Linked DNA regions of Homo sapiens. The protein of the gene in region 1 purifies or fractionates together with the protein of each later gene. This does not show direct contact. Each region holds a gene or a part of one and is shown in the gene's direction. Other genes may lie near its edges.

Region 1 (5,605 bases):
GGGAGGGGGAGAGGGAGAGGGAGTTTTTTTTTTAATGTTTAAAAAACAAAGAGAGCCTTTGATAAATACTTCTTTTGTAGGCTGGATTCTGACAAGTTCTGCCACTAAAGTGAACATAAATACCTTGGACATTCTGTTTTCTGTCAAAACAACCCATAGCCTGGAAACACGTCTTTCTGCAAATTAAATACAACCAATTTAGTCCCCAGGTTAAGGATCCTGATTTGTTGCCCCAGAAAGGAAGTTTTCTAACTCAGAAACCTAAAAGCCAGATCCTACTGGGGATCCATTAGCTCTGGGAGGTCCTCACTGGCAGTGTACCTGGCCACAGTGTGGTGGCATAAGCCTGGACTTAGGATCTAGAAACCTGATCCTAAAAATTGTACAACTAGATGTGGGTGAGCTGAGACCAAACCTGAGGTCTCAGGAGATGCTGTGAAGACAGTGCCCACATTTGGTTTTGCCCGTTGCCCAGCACATAGTGAGCACTCCATAATAAATATTGGTTCACTGAAATTTGTGTTTTTGGTATCCTCAACTAAAACTGGAAAGGTTGGGCTGCCATCCACTTCCAGTGCTCTGTGCTTCTTTTTACCATCTGCTCTTTCTTGTTTCAGTTCCTTTCTTTATTGGATCTGAGCTAAATTTACTTCCTGCTTCTCCCCTTTAAAAACCATAGAAGTCCAAAGAAACTGAACTTGCCTGTGATCTTGGCACCTTCAGCAGCCAAAGCATAACCTAGTTGCCATATGAACTTTGTTCCATTTCCCTGTCCATAATGATTCTCTGTAGTACTTCACAAAGACCCAGGCAACCCTACTCCTAGCTTCACAACAAAGGCTTGAGATCAGGAGGAAAACAAAGTGTTCCCCCAATAGTATATACAGCAAGAGATCCTTACAGTTAGGCTGCAGAAGAATTGGAGTGTGTGTGTGTGTGTGTGTGTGTGTGTGTGTGTGTGCGCGCGCGCGCGCGCGCGCACATGTGTGTGTGTTTGCCTGCCTGCCTATCAGCCTCTCCACATTCCCAGCTCTCAGCTCTGGCTGTTTTGTGTCATTGAATGTTGGAATATTAAGGGATCTTAGATCTTCTGAGACATTAAATTACTTTTTCCAAAGTGACAGAGAATTCAAATTTCTGGCTTTTAATAAAACGCCCTTTCTGCTCATTTGATGTGGGGGGTGTCTTTGTTTGTTTGGGCTGCTATAACAAAATATCTGAGATTGGGTAATTAATAAATAATAAGAATTTAATTCTCACAGTTCTGGAGGCTGGGAAGTACAAGATTGAGGTGCAAGCAGATTTGATGTCTGGTGAGGGCCTGGTCTCTAACTTCCAAGATGGCACCTTGCATGTGGCATCCTCACATGGCAGAAGGCAGAAGGGCCAAAGGGCCAAATGCTGTAGGAAGACTGTTTTATTCACTTCTTAACCTCATCCACAAGGGAGGAGTCCTCATGACCTAATCACCTCCTAAAGGCCTCACCTCTTAATACTTTTGCATTGTGGATTAAGTATCAACATGAATTTTGGAGGGATCACAAACATTGAAACTATAGAGGGTGTCTCTTTCTTCACTGAATAGAAGAGATGACCCTGGACCAGGATAGGCATGAAGGGCCATAGGCAACTGAGACAGGGTCAGTTGGCCAGAACTGTGACTGCCTGTGCCCTGATGGGGTAGAAGCACCATCTCTGGTGGTGGAGAGTCCCCTTACAAAATGGCTCTGTGTGTGTGTGTGCATGTATGTGTGTGTGTGTGTCTGTGTGTCGATATCCATAACTGCACAAACATTCTCTTTTGGGTCTGTTTCAGCAATGCAAACCTCACAAGAGGCCTGTGTGTGGCAGTAATGGCAAGACCTACCTCAACCACTGTGAACTGCATCGAGATGCCTGCCTCACTGGATCCAAAATCCAGGTTGATTACGATGGACACTGCAAAGGTAAGGTGTGCTCTCACCACTGCAAGGCAGCTTTAGCCACGGGGAGCCAAGGAACAGAGCAGTGTGGCCTGGCTGACCACATGGTCTTTCCTCCACGACCACAGCCTCTCAAAGCTGTGGAAAGCGCCCAGTTGGTTGGAGTTGCATCCTCTTGTCACTTATGAGCCTGCTGGGTTTGCCCTGGATGGCCCAGGCCTCTGCCCAGGGTTTGCTATATCAGATCCCCATGGGGGTTTTCAGCACTGTCTGCAGCTGGATAGTAGATAGGGTGGACCCCATCAGTAAATCAGTAACAATAAGAAAGTTCCTTAAATGAATTATGTACCTTTTTAGAAAGTAGGTAAGTTTCACTTTTCCCATGCTTTTTAATTTGGGCACCTCTCAGTATTGTTTCCTCTATTTTGCACTGAAACCACTGCCATTAGAATAAGAAGGAAGAAGTCCCACACTTGTTGCTAATTAGATACCAGCCCCCTGCCAAGCCATAGCCCTGCCCAGCCCCTCTCAGCCTTGCCCTTCCTTGAAGAAACAAGAAGCTGTTTCCCAGGTGATTGTCTCCACTCCATTCCCTGTCCAGAATGATTCTCCATTTGAATTCTCAAAATCCCAGTGACCCCTCAATGCAACAGGAGGAGGTATGAGGCCAGAAGGGTAACTCAGTGGCCCTAAATTGTCAGACAAAGCAGGAGACAGAAGATCCTCATACCTGGGCCCTAGAAGAAGGAAAGGAAGGGAAAGGATTCAAGACAAAATGATGAAAAGGTTACAAACATTCCCCTACATGTAGAGCAGCTGTAATCCTAGAAATACAGAAAAATTTTCTTTTTTCCTTCACTTCGCATTACACGTTTTCTCTTTTTGTCTTGCAGAGAAGAAATCCGTAAGTCCATCTGCCAGCCCAGGTGAGTGCCTATTTTTTCTACTGTGTGCATCTCAGGGAGGACATTCTTTTCATGATAGAAATTTTGTGTTCCACAATCCCTGCCAAGCTCATAAGATCTTCTATGCATCAGAATTGTGTCCCAGAACTGGCCACTCCTCAACACAGCTCAGAAAAGCTGCAAAACTACATTTGTGTATGTGTTTGCCAATTGAAGCAGCTGGTTGGGTCAGAATGTTGGCTGTGTTTTCCCATTTTTCCTGAGTAGTGATTGAACTGCATAAACAGGAAAGCCACTGAGTTCATTTTTCAACATCCTATAAGACATGCTCGTGTCATGGGACCAGCAAATAGAAGGCACAACTCTTTTTGAAAGGGGATAACTGGAAATGCCAGTAAGACTTCTGTGGTTTTCTATTAGTGATCACTAAAATTTTATCATGATTTATAGTTACAGAGCTTTTTTGCACATACTTTCCTTAGATTCTCACGGTAGCCTTTGTGAAGTAGATCTTATTGTAATTACCATATAGATGAGGAAATTGAGGCTCAAAGAGGCTAAGTGAGTTTTCTATATCACACAGCTAGTAATTGGCAGACTGGGGAAGAACTCCCAGATTTTCATTCCCCTGGCCCAGTGCCCTTTTCACCCACAGCATGTGTTGTCTTCCAGGAATTCTCTTTTGCCAAAGCTTTCTCTCCTCTGCTTCCCCATCCACTCAACTCTCAGCACCCCCTGTTATTTCCAGTGGACAACAGCTGTCCAGAGCAGGGCTTCGACGTAGCCCTCACTGGCCTTCACATTCTGTTGTTCATAATAAAGGATGATGCAGGTGGTATACAGTTGTAAGTGGGGGGAAGTTTGGATGGACCTAGTTGGTGAGAAAGGGAGAAACTGGAGAAAATCAGAAATCTAGTAGCATAAAAACTGTAATATTCTCATTTATTCATGTATTATTTCAGCTCATCTTTGAGTCAAGAGAGCTGCTTTATTGATTTTTTCCCCTTCAGCTTCCTAAAGTTAATGAAAGTATCCTTTATTATTTTTCTGCTCTAGTTATTTCTCACATAAGCAGCAAAATCTCTCTGTTTCAATATTCTCAATCTTTACAAATATTTTAGAGATGGGTGCTTGAATCCTGGGCTAGACTTTTTCCAGTTGTGTACCCTGGATGTGCTAATCCTATCTCCCTGTGTTGCTGGGATGACATATGCAGAACCATGGGCACGGATGCTCCCACACAGTGGGTGCCAGATATCACTGGGGTCCTCCCCTGACTGCTCCAGCTGACATCCTCCACTTTCCTGCAGTTGTTTGCTATCAGTCCAACCGTGATGAGCTCCGACGTCGCATCATCCAGTGGCTGGAAGCTGAGATCATTCCAGATGGCTGGTTCTCTAAAGGCAGCAACTACAGTGAAATCCTAGACAAGTATTTTAAGGTAATCCAGAGGTAGGAGGAAGACTATTCAGGCCCATAGAAAGGGAAGCTTCCTCCTCCCATTGCCCGATCACACCTTCCCAGACCACAGGAAATGTAAACCTGCACAGACACCCTGAGTTTCCTCATCATAGATCATTCATGAAGCTGTGAAAGTTGCCTTCTGACCAGCTTGATCAGTGGGAGTAAGCAGTGGAGTCTTTGGGATCTAACACACATGTGCTGCTGCCTTCAGGCAGTGAAAGCCACAAAGGTCTTGGAGAACCTGTCAGTTAGGGCCAAGCTCTGTCCCCTACTCGCCATGACACCTTATGGATCTGGCTGTTAATACAAAATTCCCTCTGATTGCACCCAGACCTGGACCACTTTGGCCTCTTTCCTGCCTAGTTTGACATTTCTCTAAGTCATTAACTTGACTGCCAATGGCTTGGAGAGAGTCTTCATATGAGAAGAATCAATGGACTGGCATTTCATGGGTCCAGAGATTGTTCCTGAACTTAGATATTGCTGTTCCCAATCATAATTAGTTGAAGAGACAGAGTGTTCCACTTGGGAGCAGGAGAGATGCTATTTTCACAAAGAGAAATGAAGGAAGCTATAATATTTAGTGATGGCTCGGGTTATCATGCCATGCAGATCTTTCACAGAACTTGAGAGTTAGAAGAAGCAATTAAGGGCATTCTTACAGCTGATTGACAAGAACAGACACACACACAGGTACATCACACTCAGAATATCACACTCAGAAGCACAGAGAAGGACACACTTAAACTCAAAACATGCCAGACACGCACACACACACCACATACAGAGACTCACATGCCACACAGAGACACATCCTACATGCAGACACATTCAGATACCCACATTTCCATGCAAGCACCAAAGCCCTCTTCACTAGGTAGATGCCCCAGCCATCTACTCCCTCACATGCTTCCAGGGCCCAACCCAGCCAGGACTCAGGAGCAACTTCAGACACATGAAGGACTTTTCTTGGCAGCTCTGAGGCCACCTAATGTGGCCAATGCCAGTCTAGTCTGTGGATTTCTCTTTCTGACACTATAGAACCCGCAGATGAAGAAATACTGGGTTGGCTTCAAATGGATATTTGGTCATTTAAGACTTCACTTGTGTCATTTTTACATAGAGATTTCTCTCCTCTATGGCAGATACTAAATCTCTGGATTCCAAGTTTTTGAGATCATACCCAGATGAAAAAGCACAGCCTTTCTTGCTCTGTCCTCTCTCTCAATCACTCCCACATTACAGAGCCCTTAGAGGAAGAATGGTTCCTCTTCTACAGAAAAACACATCATAGTGCTGAGCCAGGAGACTTGG
Region 2 (5,605 bases), on another chromosome or scaffold:
TTAAAACTAGTCATCCATAAATGTCATTATTATAATTTATTTCATGCATTCTTTTCTTCTTATCTTAAACAAATCAGCTGGTCAAACCCTATGGGCCCAGTAAGATACTGTGGAGTATAAAAAGAAAATATAAAATACGACTAAATGCTAATATTAAAAATCACATAGCTTTGTAGTTATTTTAGTTATTTAACATTTATTACTTGCTTGACAAAGTATCAGGTAGAGCTAATTAGATACCTAACAGTCTTAGTGATCTTGAAACATAGGGGGTTCCTCAACTAGGTGTCTGTAATCAATATTCTAAGCAAAAATTGCCATTAATTTCCATAACAAATGGAATCCCTTTTTACATAAGACTAAAGGTCAATATGATGAAGAAGAGATGACTATGCAACAAGCTAAAAGAAGGCAAAAACGTGAATGGGTGAAATTTGCCAAACCCTGCAGAGAAGGAGAAGATAACTCAAAAAGAAACCCAATTGCCAAGGTAAGTTATATCAACAGGAGCGTATGAGTTTTTAGAATAAATGTATAAGGTGTAAATTAAAATAATACGGCAATTCCAAATAACAAAATGAAGACTGGGGAGTCCACAGAACAAGTGAACTGGTATCCTCAACAAAATAGTACAATAATAATAATAATGAGAGAAAGAGAGAAAGGAAGGTAGCTTCTAGGGTTATGAAAAAGAATTGAGACAAAGAATTGAGACATATTGACCAATTTTAATATAGAAGGCTTACTTGGATACAGAGTCTAGCAAACAAATAGGAAAAATAATGCATGTATAAGACAGAAATGGTTGGGAGCAAAATATGGATTGGTCATGTATTGATAACTGTTGAAGCTCAGTGATAGGATGTATCAGGTTTATTATACTATTCTCTTTCTTTCTTTCTTTCTTTCTTTCTCTTTCTTTCTTTCTTTCTTTCTTTCTTTCTTTCTTTCTTCTTTCTTTCTTTCTTTCTTTCTTTCTTTCTTTCTTTCTTTCTTTCTTTCTTTCTTTTTCTGAGATGGAGTCACTGTGCCTCCCAGGCTGGAGTGCTGTGGCGCGATCTCAGCTCACTGCAACCTCCTCCTCCCAGGTTCAAGCAATTCTCCTGCCTCAGCCTCCTGAGTAGCTGGGATTACAGGCGTGTGCCACCATGCCCGGCTAATTGTTTTTGTATTTTTAGTAGAGACGGGGTTTCACCATATTGGCCAGGCTGATCTCGAACTTCTGACCTCATGATCTGCCCACCTCGGCCTCCCAAAGTGCTTGGATTACAGGCATGAGCCACCACGCCCAGCCTGTTATACTGTTCTAACTTTACATATATTTCACATTTTTCATGTTAAAAAGCTTTAAAATTACAATAATAATAAGTAAATTATTTTAATACATATTTTAACCCTACCATACAATCTCTTTCCCTTTTTGTCTCTCCACTTCCCCCTATTTAAACTAAATAAATATCTTTTGTTTTTTAATGTTGTCAGGTAAAGAGGGAGCCTTCAGGAGTAGCCTTGTCAATATTAAATGACTTTGACTTTCTTTTAACATTTTAACACTATCATGTGGCCACAGTCTGAGCAAATATTCTAACACTAAAATGATTAGTGCACATCATTGGTTCAGGCTGGTTGTCAAAAACAACGGTTTGATTTTATTTCATATTCCTAGTATCTATCAAGGCAAAAAGTAAATGGCACAATGTCAAAAAGAGTGAATCGAATGAACAGATGACTTTAGACTATGGAAGTGGGGGTGGAGAGGGAAAGGCTTGAGTGATGGTCACCTCAACGTTTTTGGTATTTGGGGCTGTAGATTACTTCAGATTACCAAGCAACCCAGAAAATCACCTACCGAATCTCTGGAGTGGGAATCGATCAGCCGCCTTTTGGAATCTTTGTTGTTGACAAAAACACTGGAGATATTAACATAACAGCTATAGTCGACCGGGAGGAAACTCCAAGCTTCCTGGTAAGTTTGGGTCCTCAACATTGGGCTACCCTTCTCCTTGTATACCATCGCTTTAGAAAGTGACAGTTTTCTACTGGTAAATTTAGAGGAGAGTTCAGTACATGCATCAGTCCACCAGCAAATAACAATATTAGTCCCTCCACAGAGCCTCGCCTGAGGGAACACAGCAGAGGGTGCATGAGTGAGGGTTGAAATCTAGCACGCCAAGTGCTTCAGTTTGCCATGACACAGCATTAGCCTGGTGGAAGGGGCAACTTGCCCAGTTGGTCTGCCCAGAGCAGGCACCTTTTTCCACTTTGTCTACCCTTTGGGGAAACATTTCTTCTTTGCACAAAAGTGATGTCCATGCCAACAGAGGCCTTATTTATACAAGTTTTAATAGTATGAAAACTGATTGCAGAGTAATACTCCACATTTTCCCTCTGTTCCTAGATCACATGTCGGGCTCTAAATGCCCAAGGACTAGATGTAGAGAAACCACTTATACTAACGGTTAAAATTTTGGATATTAATGATAATCCTCCAGTATTTTCACAACAAATTTTCATGGGTGAAATTGAAGAAAATAGTGCCTCAAGTAAGTCTTTTACAGTACTTACCACTTTCAGTTTATCTACTTTCAAATATGAGTCCCACTACAATATGTCATTCTTATAAACTAATTTATGCTCTTAGTTTAATCAGTAGTTTTGAAAAATAAAATTCATTAAGATAAATCTGGGTCTTCCTTTCTAAAATGTGTATTTGAGCTAATTATTTACTATCACTGTATTTCTAGTTATAGTCTGGTTATCAGGTCAATAGTATCTTATTCTATATATACAATTTATATGAGCATTTGGCAGTCACAAAGCTAAACAGGCAGCCTTGGGTAGCCTGGATGCATCAGCTGGGCTCTTTCAGGTTATAAAGGACAGAGACACACTCACATTACTTGGATAATTTGTGGAAAGGGGAGAATTATGACAATCTATCAAGGGAGAAAATTGAGATAGAATATAGCCTCAATCTCAGCAAACGTAAGGCTTAGAGAGAATCGAAGAGTTTGTATGGAAGGAAGCACAGTTCTACCTGGTTGGGAGAGACAGAAAGAGGTATCACAAGTGATATACAATTTTTTGAACATACAGATGATTTTAGGATATTTAAAAATTAGCATCAATGTGAACTTGTTTGGAATATTTAAAGTAAACATAATGTTAATTGTTACATATTCTTTAATAAACGTTTTCCTGTATTCCTAGACTCACTGGTGATGATACTAAATGCCACAGATGCAGATGAACCAAACCACTTGAATTCTAAAATTGCCTTCAAAATTGTCTCTCAGGAACCAGCAGGCACACCCATGTTCCTCCTAAGCAGAAACACTGGGGAAGTCCGTACTTTGACCAATTCTCTTGACCGAGAGGTACAGCAAAGCACTTGGGGGAACATTCAAGATTAAAGGGTTTGATTATAAGAAAACCAAGAGAGGTGACTCCATTTTACCCGAAAATTAAAAAAGAAAAGAGGTTCTCAGTACTTAACTTGGCTAATCTAGGGAAATTGTTTGCATTTTTAAGTGTGATTCTGGTGAGGCGAGATGTGTACCGGGCACCTGCAGAATCAGTTGTACCCTGAACATACCAGTGGAAGTTAAATAGGGGCAATGAAAGAAGGCATTGACATAGACATACATGGACAAAGATTGAACTGCAGCTAATTCCTCATGTGATGGAGGAGAAGCAAGTGTCTTAGATGAAGGGAGAAATTTCTGTCTGGAATAAAGCCTTCTTTTATATCACACTTTTTCTCCTGACTTCTCTTAATTTTATCCCTGCTTCCAGAGCACTAAAGAATCTCCTTCTCCAATCCCCCTCATTACCTACCACCACCACCTTCTATCTCCATTACCACAGGCTACCCGGTCAGACCCCATATTATTTTTGTACAAATGGCTTTCCCAATAGACTAACAGAGAAGCTCCATAAGTGAGCTTATTACTCCCACCCTACTCATTGCCCATTTTTGCTCTAAGGTTACGGTAGAGTACAGTCCTGCCATAAGAAGCTCACAAAACAGAAAACCTGCCCTAGCCCCTTAAAGACCTCCACCCAACCATCCAGAGTCCCACAAATGTCTTCTACATAAAATTGAATATTTCTACCTCCTTACCCATAGGAATCAAGTAGTTTCCATTTATAATTCTTTGGGATTAATTATTTTTCTTTATTTTTTATCCAAAATTAGCAAGCTAGCAGCTATCGTCTGGTTGTGAGTGGTGCAGACAAAGATGGAGAAGGACTATCAACTCAATGTGAATGTAATATTAAAGTGAAAGATGTCAACGATAACTTCCCAATGTTTAGAGACTCTCAGGTACACCCATTGCTCCTTAAAGAATCATTTAGATATATATTTAATACTTTGAAATCCTAATTCAGGACTTGCCTGTTTGTTGGCTTTTATTTAAGTTCTCTGCACTTATCTTTAAAGAAATATGCTTTTTAAAAAATATAAGAATTCAGTAATAAGAAGAAGGAAATACATAATTTGAGAAATAAGGATTACCATTTAGAAGAAACATAATCTCTCCATGTAAAACCTGTCATTAGGTCTTTAATTCTGCTTCTCGCCTTTTCAGTATTCAGCACGTATTGAAGAAAATATTTTAAGTTCTGAATTACTTCGATTTCAAGTAACAGATTTGGATGAAGAGTACACAGATAATTGGCTTGCAGTATATTTCTTTACCTCTGGGAATGAAGGAAATTGGTTTGAAATACAAACTGATCCTAGAACTAATGAAGGCATCCTGAAAGTGGTGAAGGTAAGGTCTGACTTCCCTTCATTGGTAAAAAAAATTCTGTATTAACCAAAATGATCATTTCTACAGATAAAATGTATTTATTTGTTAATATCACTTTATTACAGAAAACACATAAAAGTAGATTGAATTTTTTGTAATCCCCATAGAGCCGCTTTACCTGAGGACAACCTCTCTTAACATCTTGAACTCATTCCAAGCTATTGAACTTTCTATAGTAAACACAAACACACTAACATGCTATGGGAGTGATGATGTATACTTTAAGCACATGGTCATATATTATGGGTGTCCATACTTTAAGCACAAGAAAGCAAAACACATTTCTTGACTTAATCTCATTTGCAACAATCAGATTGAAGTTAGGACAAGATAAGAATGGATGGAATCACGTCTTGCCCATTCGTCAATCGGTTTTAAATGGATTAGCTACAGTCAATAGAGAATAAATGGCAACTCTTCCTACAAAATGGGAATTTATGAACAAAATCTGCAAAATAAAAGATAAATAATTGGGTAAAGCTTTTAATATGCTTGGCTATGACAGACTCCTTATCTGAGAGTGTGATCTGGGCCCCTTCCTTGGTACAGCACTTTGGTTTTTCGTTTGGTTGGTTGGTTTTTGTTTTTTGTTGTTGTGGTTGTGGTTGTGGTGTTTTTGTTTTTGTTTTTGTTTTTTTTGAGACAAGGTCTCACTCTGTCATCTAGGCAAGAGTGCAGTGATGTGATTTTGGCTCACTGCAGCCTTCACCTCCCAGGCCCCAGTGATCCTCCCACCTCAGCCTCCTGAGTAGCAGGGTCCGCATCATGTGCCATCATGCCCGGCTAAT
Region 3 (5,605 bases), on another chromosome or scaffold:
GTGACAGAGCGAGACTCTGTCTCAAAAAAAGAGAGAGAGAGAGAGAGAGAGAGAGAGAGAGAGAGAGAGAGAGAGAGAGAGAATAGGCCTGGCCTGGTGGCTCATCCCTGTAATCCCAGCACTTTGGGAGGCCAAGGTGGGCAGATCACCTGAGGTCAGGAGTTCAAGACCAGCCTGGCCAAGATGCCGAAACCCCATCTCTACTAAAAATACAAAATTAGCAGGTCATGGTGGCACATGCCTGTAATCCCAGCTACTCGGGAGGCTGAGGCAGGAGAATCGCTTGAACTCGGGAGGTGGAGGTTGTGGTGAGCTGAGATCGCGCCATTGCACTCCAGCCTGGGCAGCAGAGTGAGACTCTATCTCAAAAAAAAAAAAATTATACTGAAAGTCCACATCATTTACTTTTTTTTTTCTCTCTCTTTTTTTGAGACAGTCTTGCTCTGTGACCCCAGCTGGAGTGCAATGGCACAATCTTGGCTCATTGCAACCTCTGCCTCCTGGGTTCAAGCAATTCTCGTGTCTCAGCCTCCGAAGTAGCTGGGATTACAGGCACGTGCCACTGTGCCTGGCTAATTTTTATATTTTTAGTAGAGATGGGGTTTCACCATGTTGGCCAGGCTGGTCTCAAACTCCTGACCTCAGGTGATCCTTCCACCTTGGCCTCCTAAAGTGCTGGGATTACAGGTGTAAGCCACCATGCCCGGCCTTTGTTTTTTTTTTTTTTTTTGGTGGCATCTTGCTGTCATCCAGGCTGGAGTGCAGTGGTGTAATTATAGCTCACTGCAGCCTTCAACTCCTGGGCTGAAGTGATCCTCCTGCATCAGCCTCTCAAGTAGCTGGGACCATAGATTTGAGCCACCATGCTGTCTAATTAAAAACAATTTTTGTTTGTTTTTTTTAGAGATGGGGGGGGTCTCATTTTGCTGCCCAGGCTGGTCTCGAACTCCTGGCTTCAAGCAATCCTTTTGCCTTGGCCTGCGAAGTACTGGGATTACAGGCGTGAGCCATTGTACTCAGCCCAATCACTTGCATTTTTGAGGTGGGCTATAACCGAATGCTAAGGTTGTCAGGAGGGCCCAGGACATTCCAGATTGAGGATGGAACAGGTTGGGCAAAAGCACTGAAAAGTGAAAGTGGAAAGTATTTTAGGAGACTCCAATAACTCCTTGGTTTGAAGCAGTGTGCTATCATAATACAGCACTGGAAGATGAGTCAACAGTAACTTGATATCTGATTGTAGAAGGCCTTGAATGCCCAGGTGAAGATTCTGGACTGTAATCGAAATAGGGAGCCACTGAAGGTTCTAGAGCAGTGGAATTCTAGCAAAGGATGATTTATCTGATGTGGGTGTGGAGGGTTCTTTAAGTGGAGAAAATACCAGAGACAGGGATAACACTAAAAGGCTTGTATATTAGTTTGTGCCAGAAGTAATTCATTATTCATTTAATGTTCACTGTAACCCTGTGAGGTAAATATTATCTCCAGTATGTGGATAAGGTAACTGAAGTTTAGTGAGAAAAATTAATTTACCCAAGGTCACAGGGACACTCAGTGGTGGAGCTTGGGTTTAAAAGTAGGTCTGGCTGTTTCCAAAGCTCTGTTTTCTGTCCATTAAACATACTGAAGAGTTAAATATATGAGGGGTACATAGGACCAAGAAGAGGAGAGTGATAGTCATTCACGGGGTAGGACTCAGGACCAGGTGCATAATTTGCAGGGCTCGGTGCAAAAATGATTGAGAGTTTCAAGATAGTGACAACAGAGCATTAGCCTAAGCACAGGGCCCCTCTGAGAGCGGGGAACTTGTGACTTCACAGGACGCACACCCATGAAGCCAGCCCTTACATGGTTGGTTTTCCAATTACTATGGCAGTGTAACAAACCACCTCAAAATGTAATGGCTTAAAAGGATAATGGGCCCAGCATGGTAGCTCATGCCTATAATCCCAGCACTTTGGAAAGCCGAGGCAGGAGGATTGCTTGAGCCTGGGGGTTTCCAATCAGCCTGGGCAACATGTGAGACCCTGTCACACACACACACACACAAAAAGATAACGTTGATGTTGACTTTGCACATGAGTGCAGGCTGTGGAGACAAGCACATTTCTACTGCATTCAGTGTTGGCTGGGGCAGCTCAGAGGCTGGGGGTTAGAATTATCCGGAGCTTGGCTCTCTCCCCTGTCTGGTTGTTGGGCTGGGAAGATTTGAGCTGGAGGCTTCTCAGGCATCTGTTTCTAGGTGGGTTCTCCACACTCTCTCTTCCGTAGGGTGGTTTCGGGGAGACCAGGCTCCTTCCATGGTGGCTCAAGGTTCCAGAGGTGCACATCTGTGTGTCAAGTGAAGGGGAGAACCAGAACCAGGCATAAGCTAGGTCACTTTTATTACTTGGACTTGGAAGTCATGTAAGCACCATTTCAGCAACTCATTAGAAGCCAGTCACTAAGTCCAGATCATATACAAGGGGAGGCGAGTTAGACTCCAAGTTTTGTGGGAAGGAATGTCAAAGAATGTGTAGACAGGTTTTTAAAGCTACCACAGTGGCCTAATGAGTGAGAGGATGAGTGGATCTGAGGGGTGCTTCCCCTTTATGCCTGAACGGCTCCCCCCAGAGTCATCCTTTGGAGTTCACAGACATCCTCCTTTAAAAGGCATCTGAGGGCCGGGTGTGGTGGCTCACACCTATAATCCCAGCACTTTGGGAGGCTGAGGCAGGCGGATCACGAGGTCAAGAGATCGAGACCATCCTGGCCAACATGGTGAAACCCCGTCTCTACTAAAAATACAAAAATTAGCTGGGTGTGGTGGCGTGCACCTGTAGTCCCAGCTACTTGGGAGGCTGAGGCAGGAGAATTGGTTGAACCTGGGAGACGGAGGTTGCAGTGAGCCGAGATCACGCCACTGCACTCCAGCCTGGTGACAGAGCGAGACTCTGTCTCAAAAAAAAAAAAAAAAAAAAAAAGGCACCTGCTAGTATGTAAGAACACGTGAAGGCTGGATGATGAGTTTTGACAGCTCTGAGGGATTTAAATGACTCCAGTGCCTCCTGTCGGCCTGGGTCCTAGCAGTAAACAGATAGGGTGGAGAAAGCAATTTGAGAGGAGCCAGGTGGGAAGGGGGTGTGTGAAGCCACTGTGGGGCCGTGCAGATGAACTCTTGGAAGGAAAAAGGCCTTATTGTAGATCAGGCACTGCACTTTACACATCTTGTCTCATTAATTAAACCCTCACCACAGCCCTGCCAGAGGTGCTCTCGTCAGCCCCGCATTACAGATGGAGAACCTGAAGCACAGAAAAGCCGCACAGCTAGTGGGCTGCGGAGCCCAGATTTGAACACAGGCAGCCTGAGGTCAGGGCCCATACCCCCCAACTTTGGGCCGTACCACCTATTCCATAGCAATTCTGTGTTTTTCTTGCGTTAACATTTGTATCTTTTCCTACTTACATATTTGCAAGCTTTAGGGGGAAAAAGAAAAAGTAATTCGACCTTAAGAGATCAGCTTAGTGATAAGAGAGTGCCTCACATATGGCAGGTGTTCAATAAATATTAAAGAAATGAATATTTATCCTTATTGTACAAACTTATATCTAACTTGCCTTCCCTACGGATGCTTGCCCTCTGGTCTTTGTCATGTGGCAGCTGTTGGTGCTTTCCATGGTATTCTCTGTGGCACCCAGGCCAGGGAGCCAGAACTTCTGGCATTCTCCTGGTCAACTGGCTCTCTCAGCCATTAGGCACCCCTCCTTCCACCTTAGAGACTGGAACCCTCAGCTGACCTCAGCCCCCTTCTTCAAACCAGCAGCACTCTAGATACAAAGAACTGGGAGAGGCAGCCCTCTCTCTGCCCATTCACCCAGACCCTCCTTCAGCTGCTGCTTCCTGACCTCCCAGGCACCCTGTAGGCAGGGCCTTCTCTCTAACCTTCCTGGAAACAAGGCACTCATCTCTGCGGCTCCTGGACCCCATTCAGTACCCATAGGGTTTCTAGGGAGATTTCTGTCTTCTACTTCCTGCTGAGGCCCAGGTGGTGGAACCCCACCCTTCTGGGGACCCGGGAAGCCTCCACACACTAGCGGCAATTCCTTCAGTTCTCTGTCACTTGTCTCCTCGAACGTGATTTGTGGTATATTTCATGACACAGAAGTTTAAACTTTTGATATACTCAAATCTGCTCATTTTTTCCTTTTAAACTTTCTGAGTTGATGTATTATATTTAATGGTTCTATCACATAATATGGTTTGTTCAGCCATTGCCTAAATGTTAGACATTCAGGTTGCTTACATTTGTTTGACTAATATTAATAGCACAGCTATACATATCTTTGTAATTTCTTTTCCATTTATATTCTTTTATGTAATCCCCAAGACGATATTGTTGGGTCAGAGTTTTAGGAAATTAATACACATTTCCAGACTGCTCTCTAAAAACATTTCAGGTTTATAGTTCCAGAAGCAGTAAAGGTTAATACTCACTGATTCAGTTTCCTTAGTGATTGTAAGACTATCAAAGCTTATTTCTTTTTGCATCAGTTTTGCTATTAAGTTTTTCTAGGAAATTGGCCATATCCTCTAAGTTTTCAAATCTCTGCTGTTTCTTTAGTTATGTCCCTATTTTCCTTCTTAATATTGTTTGTGCCTTTTCTATTTGTTCTTTTAGTCTTTGGTTTATTTTTTTCTGAAATGGGGTCTCACTCTGTCACCCAGGCTGGAGTACAGCAGCACAATCACAGCTCACTGCAGTCTCAACCTCCTGGGCTCAAGTCATCCTTCACCTCAGCTTCCCAAGTAGCTAGGACTACAGGCGTGCACCACCACACCCAGCTAATTTTTTAAAATTAATTTTTTGTAGAGATGGGGGTCTCACTATGTTGCCCAAGCTGGCCTCCAACTTCTGGGCTCAAGCAATCCTTCTGCCTCAGCCTCCCAAAGTGCTGGTGAGAGGTGACAGTGTGTGCCCTCGCTCGTTCTCGGCGCCTCCTCGGCCTTGGCGCCCACTCTGGCCGCGCTTGAGGAGCCCTTCAGCCCACCGTTGCACTGTGGGAGCCCCTTTCTGTACTGGCCAAGGCCGGAGCCGGCTCCTTCAGCTTGCAGGGAGGTGTGTAGGGAGAGGCGCGAGCGCGAACCGGGGCTGCGCGCGGCGCTTGCCGGCCAGCGCGAGTTCCGGGTGGGCGTGGGCTCGGGGGCCCAGCACTCGGAGCTGCCGGCCGGCCCCGCCGGCCCCGGGCAGTGAGGGGCTTAGCACCTGGGCCAGCAGCTGCTGTGCTCTACTTCTCGCCGGGCCTCAGCTGCCTCCCCGCGGGGCAGGGCTCGAGACCTGCAGCCCGCCATGCCTGAGCCTCCCCACTGCCGTGGGCTCCTGCACGGCCCAAGCCTCCCAACGAGCGCCACCCCCTGCTCCACGGCGCCCTGTCCCATCGACCACCCAAGGGCTGAGGAGTGCGGGCGCAGGGTGTGGGACTGACAGGCAGCTCCACCTGCGGCCCCGGTGCAGGATCCACTGGGTGAAGCCAGCTGAGCTCTTGAGTCTGGTGGGGACTTGGAGAACCTTTATGTCTAGCTAAGGGATTGTAAATACGCCAGTTGGCACTCTGTATCTAGCTCAAG
Region 4 (5,605 bases), on another chromosome or scaffold:
AAGCAGATTCTCAGATTGGGCCCTAAAAGGAAGATTTTAGCACCTAGGCTGATGACCCAGAAAAGGAGAAAGAAAGGTATCAAACATGAATTTTACTTCATTATTCACCCAATTCAACTAGGGTAATAGATGAGTTACATACATGAAATATGCATTAATTACATATTTCTGGTAAATTGAGCTCCACATCAGGGATCCGAAGGCATGGAGAAGAGCTATTAACAAAATATGTTTTTTTTTTTAAATACTAAAGTATAATAGTTACATAGAAGAAATGTACATATGCAAGTAAATAGCTAAATGAAATATCACAAAGTGATCATACCTGTGATAGCAGCAAGAAATAAGATATCATCAGCAGACCAGTAGCCCCCTCATTCTCCCTCATAAGCTACAGTCTGCTTTGGAGCTATTTCTTTTGGAGAAATAAATCTTTCATTATTCATTTTTTTCATCAAGCCGGCAGTCCTTTTGTCAGTCTACAAATACTTACTGAGCACCTGCTATTTTTCCAGGCATTATTTATTTACTTATTTATTTATTTATTTATTTTCTGAGAGGGAGTCTTGCTCTTTCGCCCAGGCCGGAGTGCAGTGGCGCGATCTCGGCTCACTGCAAGCTCCGCCTCCGCAGTTCACGCCATTCTCCTGCCTCAGCCTCCCGAGTAGCTGGGACTACAGGTGCCCGCCACCACGCTAATTTTTTGTATTTTTAGTAGAGACGGGGTTTCACTGTGTTAGCCAGGATGGTCTCGATCTCCTGACCTCGTGATCCGCCCGCCTCGGCCTCCCAAAGTGCTGGGATTATAGGCGTGAGCCACCGCGCCCGGCCTCCAGGCATTATTTACGTATGCTAGGTTAATAGCCATAAACAAAACAGATAGCGCTCACTACATGAAGTTCATAGTATATTGGAAAAGCAGATACAATAAATAATATGAATAAATGAAAAAATAATGCCAAGGAGGAAATAAGGCAGAAAAAAATGGTACAGTAAATTCTGAGATGGGGAGGGGAGGGGATACAATTTTAAGTGACATATACAGAGAATAACTCTCTCAGAAGGTGACATTTACATCAAGACCTAAGGGTATTGATTCTGTAGGTATATCTGAGGAGAACATATTCCAGAGAGAAAACATAGCAAAGCGTTTAGTGTTGTTGAAATAGAGCTACCTCAGCTGTAGAAGAGGAAGTCAGGAAGCTAATGGGAGGCCATGTTATAAAGGGTTTTGTAGACAATTTTAAAGACTTTGCCTAATATTCTGAATGAAGGTTCTGAGAAGACTAATATGATTTGATTTATGTTTTAAAGGAATAACTTTGCCTGATACCTATTGAAAACACTGCAGGGAGGCAAGGGCTGGACAGCTAGTTAGCTATTGCAGTTGTCTACAGAAGAGATGATGCTGGTTTATACCATGTTAGTAGTGGTGGAGCTCTTGAGAGGTGGTAAGATACTGGGTCTGTTTTGAAGGTGGAGTCAACAGAATTTTTTGAGTTGATGTACTATGTTAAAAAAATGAAGAGAGAGAGAGAGTAAGGAACATTGTAGTACCTTTTGAACATTATAGCACCAGTTACCTGAAAAAATACAATTGATATACCTGGTTGAGTCTAACCTTTGCCAGGGTTTCATATAAGTTACTTATCTAAATTCTCTGTGAATATTTGTACCAATATGGAACTCACCACAATCTAAAGCAATTCATTTAGGTGTTTGAATCATTTATCAAAACAAAGGAACAAGTACACAAATACTGCTTGACTCCTCCAAAATGAGTATTAGCAGATATAATACTATTAAATTTTCTATGTCGTCTTTGTATCTGTTTTCAGTAAGTAGTTTTCAAGGAATTTATTAATTTCATCTATGTTGTCAAATTTTTTGGCATGTAGTTATTTATAACATTTCTAAATTATTCTTTTAGTATCTACAGCTCATATAGTGATGACCTGTTATCTCTAATATTGGTAATATATGTTTTCTTGACTCTGGTCAATTTTGCAAATAGCTTATCAACTTATTCTTTTCAAGCAGCTAACTTTTGGCTTTGTTCTATTTTCTATTTCATCAATTTCTCCTCTTTATTACTTATTTTAAAAAATTTTCTATGCTCATCATTGGCTAGCTCCTTCAGATGAAAGTTTAGATCATCCATTTTAGAACCTCTTTCTTTTCTAATATATGTATTAAAGTTATAATTTTCCCCCAAATTACTGCTTTGGCTGCTGGGATTTGATAGGTTGTATTTTCTTTGTGATTCATTTCATTTCTAAATTCTATGATTACTTTGAGTCATGAGTTATTTAGAACTCATCCTTTTACTTATAAATATATTTCTTATAAATATTATATAGTTGATTCTTTTTGTTCTTCCAGTTGGATAATTTCTGTCTTTTAACTGGAGTACTTACTTCTTAATATTCTATGTAATTACTGATACCATTGGATTTAAGTCTTCCATCATCCTATTTGCTTTTGAATACTTTTTTTATATTTTGGCTCTACTTTTTGCCTTTTTAAAAAACTAATCAAGGTCTTGGAATTATCATTAATTATTAAACTCATACTTCCAAAACACTACGAAGAGCAAATATGTTTCTTCTTTTACATGGAAAATATACATATGTTTTTTACCGTGGAAAACATACTAACAACTAAAATTTACTGAACACTTAGTATGTGACAGATACTGCGTTAAGCATGAACTTACATGCATTATCTGTTTTAATCCCTTCAAGCAGTAATATAAAGTAAGGACTACTATTATTTATGATTTTCTGGTGAGAAAATTAAGGCTGAGAAAAGTTAGATAAGTTACTTCTCTAGTTAGTGGTAGAGCTAGGACTCAAAAACTCATGCAATTTATGAGTATTTACCTCTGAGTCTTTCCTTTCTAGGCTGTATATAACCAATACCTTCACTTAAAAAGGCGAATATTATTTCTGGCATGCCTATCATTCTAGATTTCTTCTTATGGGCAGGTAATTGTGTCACATATTATAAAGGATATTTGCTTTCTTATTGCTTTGCTACTCCTTGTTTCTTTGTTTACTTACCTTGTCAAGTTAAAAATTGCCAAATACAGGAAGTTAAATCCACCTCATATGGTGCAAAATCAATCTTTGAGTTTGAATAACATATATCACACTCCTTTTACAACCATTTATTCAAGTTGGATTAAGGAACTCAAGAGGTTTTCTTAAGCCCACCCCTCTTCTTGAATGCCATAAAGTACGTCTGCTTTATTTTTTGCTTCTTCAGGATTCTGAGATGTGCAAAGACTACCGAGTATTGCCCAGGATAGGTTATCTTTGTCCAAAGGATTTAAAGCCTGTCTGTGGTGACGATGGCCAAACCTACAACAATCCTTGCATGCTCTGTCATGAAAACCTGTAAGTATTCAAGTTGCCCCATCATATCTTCCAGTTTAGAATTTCTCAGCTAGAGTGTTAACCCATAGTAATGCACTGATATAAATTCGAAATGTGTTGCAAGTAATTTATTCATCATAGAAGTTAAAAATTCAAAATTTGTGAATTATCTTTCTTATATGTAAAATAGAAAAGATTTAAGGCTATTCCTTTGGTAAATTGCTTACCTACATTGTTATATGCTCTACTGAGAAGAAGAGAAAGAAAAAAAATAGTGGAGTTACAATTGCAGAATATTGGTATAATCCTGTGTACAGTCATGGGAGTGTGAACATCATTCATTCTGTGTGTAGTGGAGAAAAACAGTAGAGAACTACTGCTATATAACCCAGCCCAGTGTATTATATCTAAAAGGTCCTGTGACTATAATATAGCTACATATTCCCCATTTCTTTAACCCTGCCTCTTGAAAGAAGTAGTACCTTGCAAAAGGAAAGTGCACTGTACAAAAGAAAGCCCAATAAATAAATAGCTGATCTGATGTCTGCTCTCATATTTATGACTATCTGGGTATCTGGAGGCATATTATTTCATGATTCTGAATCTCACTCCCTTCATTGGAGAAATGGAGACAGTTCTCTGAGCTGCTGACTTCACAGATGATTGAAAAGAACTGCTAGATATGAAAATATTTTTATCTTAAGTTAAATACAAGGGATTCATTTTAATACTCTTATTATTGGCTTTAGTTTTGTTGTTGCTACTCTGCTCAAATGCTGTCTGAATTTTAAAATAATTTTTAAATAATTTCCCCTTGTCTCTATATGCATCCCTTCCCTTCTCCTGGCCACCATTTGGCCAGCTTTCAAGGAGAGAATGGTGACAAACCTTGGTTTTCCCATCTCACCTGACCCCAGACCTACATTGTAGTACTACTTTATCCTTCTTAGGACACTATAAGCAAGGCCCAGAACATGAGGATAGGACTCCCTGATATCCTGCTTTTTAATCCTGGAAAAATATTTAAAAGAATTCATCTTTTAGGTAAGGTATGGTAGATATAGGTAAGGTATGGTAGGTATGGTATGGTAGGTATACTTCATCTATAGGTAAGGTATGGTAGATAAGGCACTTTCAGATTTCAGTCACTGAATCCCTGCAACCTGCTATGGAATGTTATTATCTTTATTGTTCAGAAGGTTAATCTGAGGCTCAGAGAGTCCAGGTAATTTGTTTAAAGTTACAAAGCTAGGGAGTAAATCAGACAGGATTTTGACCTTATTGATTTGGATCTAAATACAGTTTTCTTTTTTCTCCACTAAACTACTGTTATTTCTAAGACAGTAGTTCCTTAAATTGTCAAAGACCAAAGATTCCTTAGATAATATGAAGAAAGTTACTCCTTTCAAGAAAATTTAAAAAAATGTGATATGAACAATCCACACACATAATATTCATAGGCTCGTGGAGTACTTGAAATTCATCTGTAGACCTTATAGGTTTTTAAGAATTAAGAAATTCCCGTTTAAGGAATAAATATAACTGTCCAGGAATTCCATTACTATATATACCTTATCTCCAGCCCAGAAATCCTTTAATTCCTCTTTCTTATAAATGTCAGGGCCTAAATTATCCATATAATTTTCTTCAACATTTTCATCAACTTTATAGACCCATAACAAGTGATCTTTTTAAGGGAAATTTAGCATAAGAAACTGAAATGATGAAAATATTAAGAAAGCATACCTCAGGATAGTTTGTTTAGCTAAGGGAGCTGGGAGTAGATATTATAAAGAAGGATCAGGTTATCTGAGGCAAAAGGAAACAATATTCATTTCTAAGGTTTTAGAGAAAGTTATATGAGAGCAATTTCAATTTAAGCAATGCTAAAAGACAAATTGCACTGCCTTGATAGATAATGAGTTTCCCATTACCAGAGGCAAACAAGTACATGTCTGATTCATAATATTTCTCCAGTGAGAGGCATTAAAATTCGTACTCCTTAAGATTCATTCCAACTACAAAACTCAGACTGTATCATTTGTGTCTTGTTATATTTTTCCCCAGGTCGTATTATTGGTACTCAATATAGTCAAACATCTCTCTGGGATCTGATTCTCGCATCTATAAATGCGAGATCACCTTTAGACCAGATGATCTCCAAGTTTATTTCCAACATTCTCTATGAATATATCAGTGAATGAAATGTGACAGGATAGGTCCAGGGC
Region 5 (5,605 bases), on another chromosome or scaffold:
GCTGCTATGTCCTTGTGACACGCTTCCGTCATTTTTTGGAGCACTTTCTTATTTTCTGACACAATAAGATATTCTAGGATCCTTTTGAATCTCTCCCCTGCCTCACCTTTGGAATCGCCCATTTCTCGAGAGCCCTGATTCCTTTAAGGAGAATGGTAGTAGAGACAAGTGTCTGGGCACTAGGTGAGCTCTTTCCTACTGGAGTGTCTTTACTTGCTAAGGTAACAATTTACCATGTGGATTATTTTTGTTGGAGTTTTAGTTACTCTATTTTTCGAGGAGTGGTTATTTTTGCTAAATAGAATCTTTATCCTGTGGAAAACAATTTGCGTATAATGAGTAAGTATAGAAGTCAGGGTGGCTAGGCACAGTGGCTCATGCCTATAATACCAGCACTTTGGGAGGTTGAGGCAGGAAGATAATTTGAACACAGAAGTTCAAGACCAGCAACATAGGGAGACCCTGTCTCTACAATTTAAAAAAATAAAAAAGTCAGGGTATATCACTTAATAGAGAAGCTCAGTACTTAATGCTTAATTCTGGTTTTGTTTTGTTTGAAAGTGGAATTGTTAAATTATTAGCAGTATAGGAAAAAAAGACAAGTTAGTAGAAAAGTATTAGAAGTATAGTCTTATAAATGTTTTGAAATATTTTCTAGGGACATTTTCTTTTTCCCTGATACTTCTTTAACATAGCTGTCTATATGGTGATGTTATTACAAATGTTCCCTTACTTAGTTTTGTATTTGGTTTGTTCATTTTATTCAGATCTACAGAAGTCATTTCTAGTACTTTCTAAAAACTTATAATGCTCTTTGTTTTTTAGGCTGTTAAAAGACATAATCTGACTAAAAGATGGCTTATGAAAATCGTCGATGAAAGAGTGAGTCAAAATTGTTCAAGTCTTAAGTTTTTTCTTCCTGTTTAATTCTTAAGCTAATTCTTCAAGAAGGACATTTTTTGACTGTATATTAATATTTTGGAGGAAGGAAACTTTTAGAGAATTATGCCATTTTATTCATACTTTACCCTTGCATGCTACCCCCCATACCCTCACATTGAGACAGACAAGCACCAAGGCAGAGGCATGTGTATGCACAACCACACTCCACTATTTTGGTTTTTTCAAAAGGAAATTTTCATACTTACATAAAAGTAGAGAGACTACTCTACATGTGTAGAGTATCTGGTGACATGTTAAAGAAAATCCCAGACATCTTATCATTTGATTTGTAAATACATATATATCTTAAAAAGATAAAGACAAAAAACATAGCCATGATATGATTATCATACCTTAAAAATTACTAATTATTCCTTAATATCATCAAATACTTGATTAGTCATACACATACCTTTAAATATACCCCAGTACTTGGATCGGTGTCTAAATAGTAGAGGGCATAAAGAAAGTCTGACAGTTCCAGTGAATGGAATCCTGTACTAAATTCTTAGAACTGAGTTCTAGGTCCAGCCAAGTCAGTGAATTGCTGTGTGACCTGGCCTAACATGTGTGACCTTTCTGATGCATTGTTAGGTCTGTGTTCCCCTTGGCCTGATATTAATTACATGCTGTTGTCATGGAAATATGTAAGTTTACTTAGTTTATTTAGATAGTTTGCTAACTATAGGCTGTAGCAATAACAAGAAGAAGCCAAAAAGATATATTAGCTAAGAAGACCTATTTTCAGGTGTCATCTTTTCTGTTTTACAAGGTAAAGAAAATTAGGGAACTCAAGACAGAGATACCATTTTAGTTTAATGAAAAATAACACTTGGCTTTTGAAGGGGGGGATATTTAAAAGTAAAGAACTGTGAACAAACATTGATCTATAGATTCAGTGCAATCCTTTTCAAAATTCCAGCTTTCTTTTTTGCAGAAATTGACAAACTGGTCCTAAAATTCATATGGAAATGCAAGGGACCCAGAATAGCCAGAATAATCTTAACAAAGAAGAACAAAGTTAGAGGGCTCACATTTCCTGATTTCAGAACTTAACTACAAAGCTACAGTAATCAAACTGTGTGTTACTGATAAAGGGTAGACATATAGATCAATGGAATAGAAATGAGAGTCCAGATATAAACCCATATATTTATAGTCAATTGAGTGACAAGGGTGTCAAGACACTTCACTGGGGAAAGAACAGTCTTTGCAACAAATGGTGCTGGGACACTTGGATACCTCTTGCAAAAGAATAAGTTTTGACCCCTCCCTCACACCATATACAAAAATGAACTCAAACTAAATTAAAGACCTAGATGTAAGAGCTAAAACTGTGAAACTCTTAGGGGAAAGCATAGGTGTAAATCTTAATGACTTTTAGGTTAGGCAGTGGTTTCTTTTTTTTTTTTTTTTTGAGATGGAGTCTCGCTCTGTTGCCAGGCTGGAGTGCAGTGACACGATCTCGGCTCACTGCAATCTCCGCCTCCTGGGTTCAAGCAGTTCCCCTGCCTCAGCCTCCTGAGTAGCTGAGACTACAGGTGTGCGCCACCACACTCGGCTAATTTTTTTTTTTTGTATTTTAGTAGAGATGGGGTTTCACCATGTTGGCCAGGATGGTCTTGATCTCCTGACCTCGTGATCCACCCGCCTCAGCCTCCCGAAGTGCTGGGATTACAGGCTTGAGCCACCGCGCCCTAGGCAGTGGTTTTTTAGATGTGATACCAAAGGCACAAGCAAGAAAAGAAAAAATAGATAGATTGGACTAAAAGAAAAAAATTATTTGCCAGTTATATATCTGATAAGGGACAATTATCTAAAATATGCAAGAAACTCTTACAACTCAAGAATAAAAAAAAAATCCTAATTTAAAAATGGGGAAAGGATTTGAGTAGACATTTCTCCAGATAAGGTGTACAAATGACCAATAAGCATCTGAAAAGATGTTCAGCATCTTTTCATTAGAGAAATGCAAATTGAAACAAAGAAACATCACTTCACAGCTGTTGGGATGGCTGTGATAAAAAAGAAAAAAGATGCACGATAACAAGTATTGGTGAGAACAGGGAGATGTTAAAACCTTTCGTACATTGCTGGTGGGAATGTGAAATGGTGCAGCTGCTTTGGAAAAATAGTTTGGCAACTTTTTCTTCGAAGAGATAAACATAGGAGTTATCATAGACCCAGAAATTCTACCCCTAGGTTTATACCCAAGATAAATGAAAACATATGTCCACCCAGAACTTGTATATGAATGTTTGTAGCAACATTATTCATGAAAGCCCGAAAGTAGAAAGAACTCATAGTCTGTTAATGAGTTGTTAAACAAAATGTTGTATATCCATACAATGGAATATTATTCATAATTTATTCAACTAAAAAGAATAAAGTACCAATAGATGAAGCAAACAATATGCTAATTGAAAGAAGCCAGATACAAAAAGCTACATATTATACGATTCCATTTGTATGAAATGCCCAGAATAGACAAATCCATGAAGATGAAAAGTAGATTAGTGGTTTGCCAGGGCTGAGGAGGGGGGGAAATGGGAAGTGTCTGCTTAATGGATGCAACTTTTCTTTTGGGGGTCATTAAAATATTCTGGAATTAGATAGTAGTGATAGCTGCACAACTTTGTGTATATACTAAAAACCACTGAATTGTATTATTTGAAGGGATAAATTTTATGGTATGTTAATTATGTCTCAAAAAAAACCATAAAGGATGCATTTTTTTTCCTGGAATCATTGCTGATGTCATTTTCTTTTTTTTTTTTTTTTTTGAGACAGAGTCTCACTCTTGTCGCCCAGGCTGGAGTACAATGGCACGACCTTGGCTCACTACAACCTCCACCTCCCGGGTTCAAGTGATTCTCCTGCCTCAGCTTCCCGAGTAGCTGGGATTACAGGTGCCTACCACAATGCCCAGCTGACTTCTTTTGTATTTTTGGTACAGACAGGGTTTTACCATGTTGGCTAGGCTGGTCTTGAACTCCTGACCTCAGGTGATCTGCCCATCTCGGCCTCCCAAAGTGCTTGGATTACAGGCATGAGCCACCGCACCCAGCCTCTTTTTTTTTTTTTTAAACCCTGCATGTGGCATTTGATGCTGGTGTTAGTTTTTTCTGATTTTAAAGAGGGTGAAATAGGGGATAATATTTTGCCCTAATAATAGTCTTTGTAAAAGTGGCTAAGTGTTCTCGCTATTAGATTCTCATTTTTCTGTTTCTTGCATATAGTGTATCTAGGGAATCAACCCTGTTATTTTATTGAGCATGGTTTCTTTTTAGGGGATGAGGTGGGCACTGGTTTCTGTTTTCTTTTTCTAGGTACCTTTTCCTCATTGAGCATGTAGATTCAAGAGTCAAATATGTGGGTTCCCGTCCCCACCATTTATTTATTAACTGTGTGTCTTTGGACATGTTAATGTGTCCATGCCTCAGTTTCTTCATTTGTAAAATGGGAAAAGTATTAATTCCTTATCTCTTGGAGGGGGGGTTGTTTGGGTTAAGAAGATAATGTCTAAAGTGCCTACGTAATGTCTAAAGTGCCTATGTAAGAGCTCAGTAAAGTCAGTTTATTTTGATAACTTGGGCTTCAGATGAAATTTAAAAAAAATGCCATGTCCATGGTGATTTGTATATTGAGGTTATTCCTGATGTCTTATTTTGAGGTGGTGATTTCAAAGTATTGAATGTGTAGAACTTCAATATTGTAATGTTTTATCTTATTGTGTACTAAATAACATATACTGAATATTTTTATTCGTTATTCAGTTCTTTGGGGCAAAAAACAGCACCTTTTCTTTCTAAAATATTGACAGTTCAACAGACTTTATTTGCATTTTATTTGATGTAGGAAAAAAATCTGGATGACAAAGCATATCGTAATATCAAGGAACTGGAAAATTATGCTGAAAACACACAGAGCTCTCTTCTTTACTTAACACTAGAAATATTGGGTAAGTTGTTTTTCTGTTTCATACTTCTTTTTTCCAATAAAATACCTATGAGATTTCACTTTTTCATAATTTGGTAATCTAACCAGTTTAGCACTAAAGCCTTCCTTTATACTATCTGTAAAGGAACAGTTTTTTTTGTTATTATTATTAGCAAGAAGAAGAATTTATATCTCTTTCTTTGTAATGCAGAGTAATCCAAGACTCAGGCTCTCATACAACTACTTTACCTCATGGGAATGTTGAAATTAATAATCTGGTAATTGCAAGTGGCTTTACTTTTTTACTATAGCATCTCCTACAATTTGGAAGGCCTATAGCCTGACTCTTCCTTTCGTGTTAATAGTACTTATCCATGGAAAAAGAAAAGTAGAAGAAGTAAAACACATTTATTTTATTTTATTTTATTTTATTTTATTTATTTTATTTTATTTTATGATGGAGTCTCGCTTTGTCCCCAGGCTGGAGTGCAGTGGCTCAATCTCGGCTCACTGCAACCTCTGCCTCCCGGATTCAAGTGATTCTCCTGCCTCAGCCTCCTGAGTAGCTGGGACTACAGGGACGTGCCACCACGCCCAGCTAAATTTTGTACTTTTAGTAGAGACGAGGCCAGAATGGTCTCGATCTCTTGACCTCGTGATCTGCCCGCCTCGGCCTCCCAAAGTGCTGGGATTACAGGCGTGAGCCACAGTGCCTGGCCTAAAA
Region 6 (3,500 bases), on another chromosome or scaffold:
CCCCAACTCACCTGAAGTAAAGAACTTTACGGAAATGAAGTTCCTTAGGATTGAAGGAAGGCTGATTTGAAGATGTCTTGAAGATAACAACTCTTTCAGTTCTGATTATATAATAATAGTGTTTGCTATCATAGCACACAACATTATTTCACTGTTAGGATTGAATTATTTTCTTTTTTCCCCATGTTTCTGCATTTACCAAATCACATCATAAACCTCCCCTTACTTCTCTTGGGACTTCAAAGCATGCTAGTAATTGACTTTTTTTTTTTCTTTTCCCCAAGATTGGGAACAGGGATTTGTTAAATACAACTGTAAAATGCCAAGAATATGTATTTAAAAATTGTTTTGGGAATCTAATTTATGGGTAAACTATGTAATAATATGGTGTAGACAACTGAACATAGTTAACTGTCCCATACTAGCCATGGAATTAATATTTATAAAATCTGGGACTTAATAATTGTTTTTAAAGGATTTTTAATGAAATTCTAGTGTTTGACAATTGTAGAGGGCAGAAGTCTCCTATACTTGATTTTGTGGGATGTGAGGACTGGGTAGATATGCCAATCTGGAAATAAGATAGTCATGCTGTGGTCAATGGCGACCATTTCATTACTGCACCCTCAAGCATCTTGCAAATTTAAAAAATTATACTGCTGTTTGATATGATTTGCTACTTTCAAATAGTGCATGAGTAGTTGAATATCTAAATATCTATATATCTATATATTTATATGCATAATTACATATGACCAAAAGTAATAACAAATCTTAATGTATATTTCCATGCAACCCATTCAAAAAATTGCAATTTAATTCTTTATAAATTTAAATTACCACCTCCTTATGGGATGTGAGAATAACTAAAAATATATGGATATATATATATATATATATATATACTTTAACCATTACATACGTAGATGGATGTGTATTTATATTTTTTACTTAGTCATTCAACTTTTAAAAACTATCATCTTTGACCTGTTTCAGGTTCCGGCTAACACATTTTCTAAGTCGCCAGTGCTGCTTACAGTTTGAATACATGAAAATCCTGTTTCTGAGATGTTTGCGCACGTGCTTATTAGGAAATGAGTCTGTATGGAAATCTCACCACAGATAATGGTTAACGAACCGGGTCGACATCACAAAGGAGGGTGGAGACTCTTTTTACTAACTTGAATGAGACAAAAGCAGTGGTGTCAGTTTATAATCCTGATGCATTTCAGTAATAATGTAGAAAAACATTATTTTAAAAAAGTTCCAACACACAGCCATGAGGAGCCTCAGTTTTGAAAGAGGTGCATAATAAAACTACTAACCAGAGGAGTCTATGCCATTTTAAGAAAAACAATTAACCTGGTTAAAGAGAAATGTCTTATGTAAATAATAAACTAATTGTGGCTTGTAAATGATTTGTATGTGATCCTGTCGACTAAAATCACTTAACAATTCTACAATAAGCTTCTGCATCAAAGCCTGCCGCTTGCTCTATGCCGGAATAACACCAAATGGAATCTCCTCATCTCTTGCTTGTTAGCGATGTGTCTGATTCAGGGCATCTGTCTTTTTGTTACTTTTTTGTCCGTGTCCTCTCATTTGGGTTTTGTAACTGCAATTTTCAAACCAAAGTTTAAAATCACCTTTTCTTCCTGTTTTGCTGTAGTCACTGGTGTTCCTCACCCACCAGCTGTAACTCAGTTTGTGTGAGGTACAGCCACAGAAGATGTCATGTACTGTATATTACCTGGTGATAGTTGCTTTTCACCCCCCGAGTTCAGTTTCTAGGAGCCAATGAAACTTCCCCTCACCTCCTCATCTTTCCAAGTTGTTCTTTGAATTGAGGAGTTTGAAGGCATAAACAGTTACTTGGGGATTTGCGAAAATCCTACTTAGTTACTGCGTTTACAGTTCTTTGGCCCAGTCTCTGACCCTTCCCAAGTATTTGTGCAATGATTGTGTTTACTGCTGGATTTTTGAAGGTTTTTTTTTTTAAGAAAGTGCCATTTCATTATTTGATTATCACCAAATTATCTGGAAATAATTGGGACATTGTAACTTATCTATTTATAGTTATGAGATTAAGACTGGAGTGCCATCACCGCGGGTGATGATTTAGCTTTTGCTGTGTGTGTGTGTGTGTGCCTTCCAAATCATGCCATAATTGTAATGTTGAATCGGACAGAGCCTTACGTGCCCGAGGGCGGGGCCTACCTGCCTGAGCGCGAGCCCTTCATCGTGCCGGTGGAGCCCGAGCGGACAGCGGAATACGAGGACTACGGCGCAGACGAGCCTGCAGAGGAGCCTCCTGAGCCCCACCGGCGCTGGCGGCGCGCCCTGCCCCACGGACCCGGGCAGTGAACCAGAGATCACGCGCCGCGCCGCGAGGCTTGGGGGAGGTGTTGAAATTCTCATTTACAGGTCAGATAGAGCAGTGTACGTCTTTTCTGAGGTGTTTCTTCCAGCGTTGCTCATCCAGGAGTACCCTTTCTGATTGTAGAGAACCTTGTTTCTGCAGGAAGCCTAGCTCCAAGCACGCAGTCTGTAGACATTTTTGCCTTTGCCCTTGAAATGCTTGCAAAATACTTTGTTAACAAAAGCTGCAAAGAGAGAACATGCCGTGTGCCTTTAGTTAGCACAGCGGGCAGCCTCAGTGAAACTCTTAGGTTAAGCAGTTAAGTCCTGGAACCCAGAGCTGCTGTGTATTTCGAGCGGGCAGTTTATCTTTTGCTATACTTATTTTCAATTCAATTACACCACGATTCAAATAATTCCCCTCCTAAAACCAAAAAGGAGGGAAACGTCAACTCCATTGCAATTACTTATCTTCCTCTTCTATCTCTGTTATACGCCGGGGCATAGAATGCTCGTATACATCTCTTTAACAACCACAAACCTTAAGCCATGTAGATGAAGTTAGTGCATCAACGGGATACAGTTCCATATTGCCTTAAACCTCCTTGTTTTAGACACACTAACATTTATACCAAATTGCAGATTATTCTGCAGAGAGGGAATTGCATGTTTGTGTTGTATATTTAGTATGAACTTTTTTCAGAATATAATATTTCTTAGTTATCAAAAGTAGTTGGAAAACATTTGCAAGACTATGAACATAGAATTGCTGCTTTTATATTTTAACTGCAGATTGTGAATTTCACTGCCTTATATTATTTATTTCTGAAACAAAAGAGGCATTTTTCAATAAAACTACTGAAAATTTGACATGGCATGTTTCTTTCTTTGAAGGGCCTTTTGGACTGCCTCAAGTGGTTGTTACAACAAACAAGTTCATATCCTTGGATACGGTTACAAATCTTGCTAATACTATTAAATTATGCTAAATAACTTTAGATTTTTAATGATACGGTGAAGTCATAGAAAGAGAGTGGTGAGAGCCTTAAAAAGCCCAGCAGATTCCAAAGGCTTTATTAGGAATATAGAGGATGTGTGGGTTGGTGGAAAAACAACTATGTATCCTAGGATACCCCAAACAA

Evidence for each region.
Region 2: the proteins of FSTL1 (region 1) and DSG3 purify together in Homo sapiens (affinity purification with mass spectrometry; one large-scale study listed by BioGRID and IntAct). This does not show direct contact.
Region 3: the proteins of FSTL1 (region 1) and CGREF1 purify together in Homo sapiens (co-immunoprecipitation; one large-scale study listed by IntAct). This does not show direct contact.
Region 4: the proteins of FSTL1 (region 1) and SPINK5 purify together in Homo sapiens (affinity purification with mass spectrometry; one large-scale study listed by BioGRID and IntAct). This does not show direct contact.
Region 5: the proteins of FSTL1 (region 1) and NDUFAF6 purify together in Homo sapiens (affinity purification with mass spectrometry; one large-scale study listed by BioGRID and IntAct). This does not show direct contact.
Region 6: the proteins of FSTL1 (region 1) and COL12A1 purify together in Homo sapiens (affinity purification with mass spectrometry; one large-scale study listed by BioGRID and IntAct). This does not show direct contact.

The regions. Positions count from the first base shown.
Region 1 is NC_000003.12:120,408,195-120,413,799, reverse strand, and holds part of FSTL1 (follistatin-related protein 1 precursor), read left to right. Parts: intron 1-1,816; coding exon 1,817-1,946; intron 1,947-2,815; coding exon 2,816-2,848; intron 2,849-4,137; coding exon 4,138-4,268; intron 4,269-5,605.
Region 2 is NC_000018.10:31,456,635-31,462,239, forward strand, and holds part of DSG3 (desmoglein-3 preproprotein), read left to right. Parts: intron 1-358; coding exon 359-490; intron 491-1,810; coding exon 1,811-1,966; intron 1,967-2,398; coding exon 2,399-2,543; intron 2,544-3,210; coding exon 3,211-3,377; intron 3,378-4,198; coding exon 4,199-4,327; intron 4,328-4,592; coding exon 4,593-4,778; intron 4,779-5,605. UniProt on the Homo sapiens protein: A component of desmosome cell-cell junctions which are required for positive regulation of cellular adhesion. Required for adherens and desmosome junction assembly in response to mechanical force in keratinocytes.
Region 3 is NC_000002.12:27,111,349-27,116,953, reverse strand, and holds part of CGREF1 (cell growth regulator with EF hand domain protein 1 isoform a precursor), read left to right. Parts: exon of another isoform or gene 1-2,330; intron 2,331-5,605. UniProt on the Homo sapiens protein: Mediates cell-cell adhesion in a calcium-dependent manner. Able to inhibit growth in several cell lines.
Region 4 is NC_000005.10:148,127,992-148,133,596, forward strand, and holds part of SPINK5 (serine protease inhibitor Kazal-type 5 isoform b preproprotein), read left to right. Parts: intron 1-3,267; coding exon 3,268-3,398; intron 3,399-5,605. UniProt on the Homo sapiens protein: Serine protease inhibitor, probably important for the anti-inflammatory and/or antimicrobial protection of mucous epithelia.
Region 5 is NC_000008.11:95,040,745-95,046,349, forward strand, and holds part of NDUFAF6 (NADH dehydrogenase (ubiquinone) complex I, assembly factor 6 isoform 1 precursor), read left to right. Parts: exon of another isoform or gene 1-183; intron 184-825; coding exon 826-882; intron 883-3,732; exon of another isoform or gene 3,733-3,851; intron 3,852-4,800; coding exon 4,801-4,903; intron 4,904-5,605. UniProt on the Homo sapiens protein: Involved in the assembly of mitochondrial NADH:ubiquinone oxidoreductase complex (complex I) at early stages. May play a role in the biogenesis of complex I subunit MT-ND1.
Region 6 is NC_000006.12:75,084,054-75,087,553, reverse strand, and holds the end of COL12A1 (collagen alpha-1(XII) chain long), read left to right. Parts: intron 1-996; coding exon 997-1,007; 3' UTR 1,008-2,188; coding exon of another isoform or gene 2,189-2,364; 3' UTR 2,365-3,228; downstream 3,229-3,500. UniProt on the Homo sapiens protein: Type XII collagen interacts with type I collagen-containing fibrils, the COL1 domain could be associated with the surface of the fibrils, and the COL2 and NC3 domains may be localized in the perifibrillar matrix.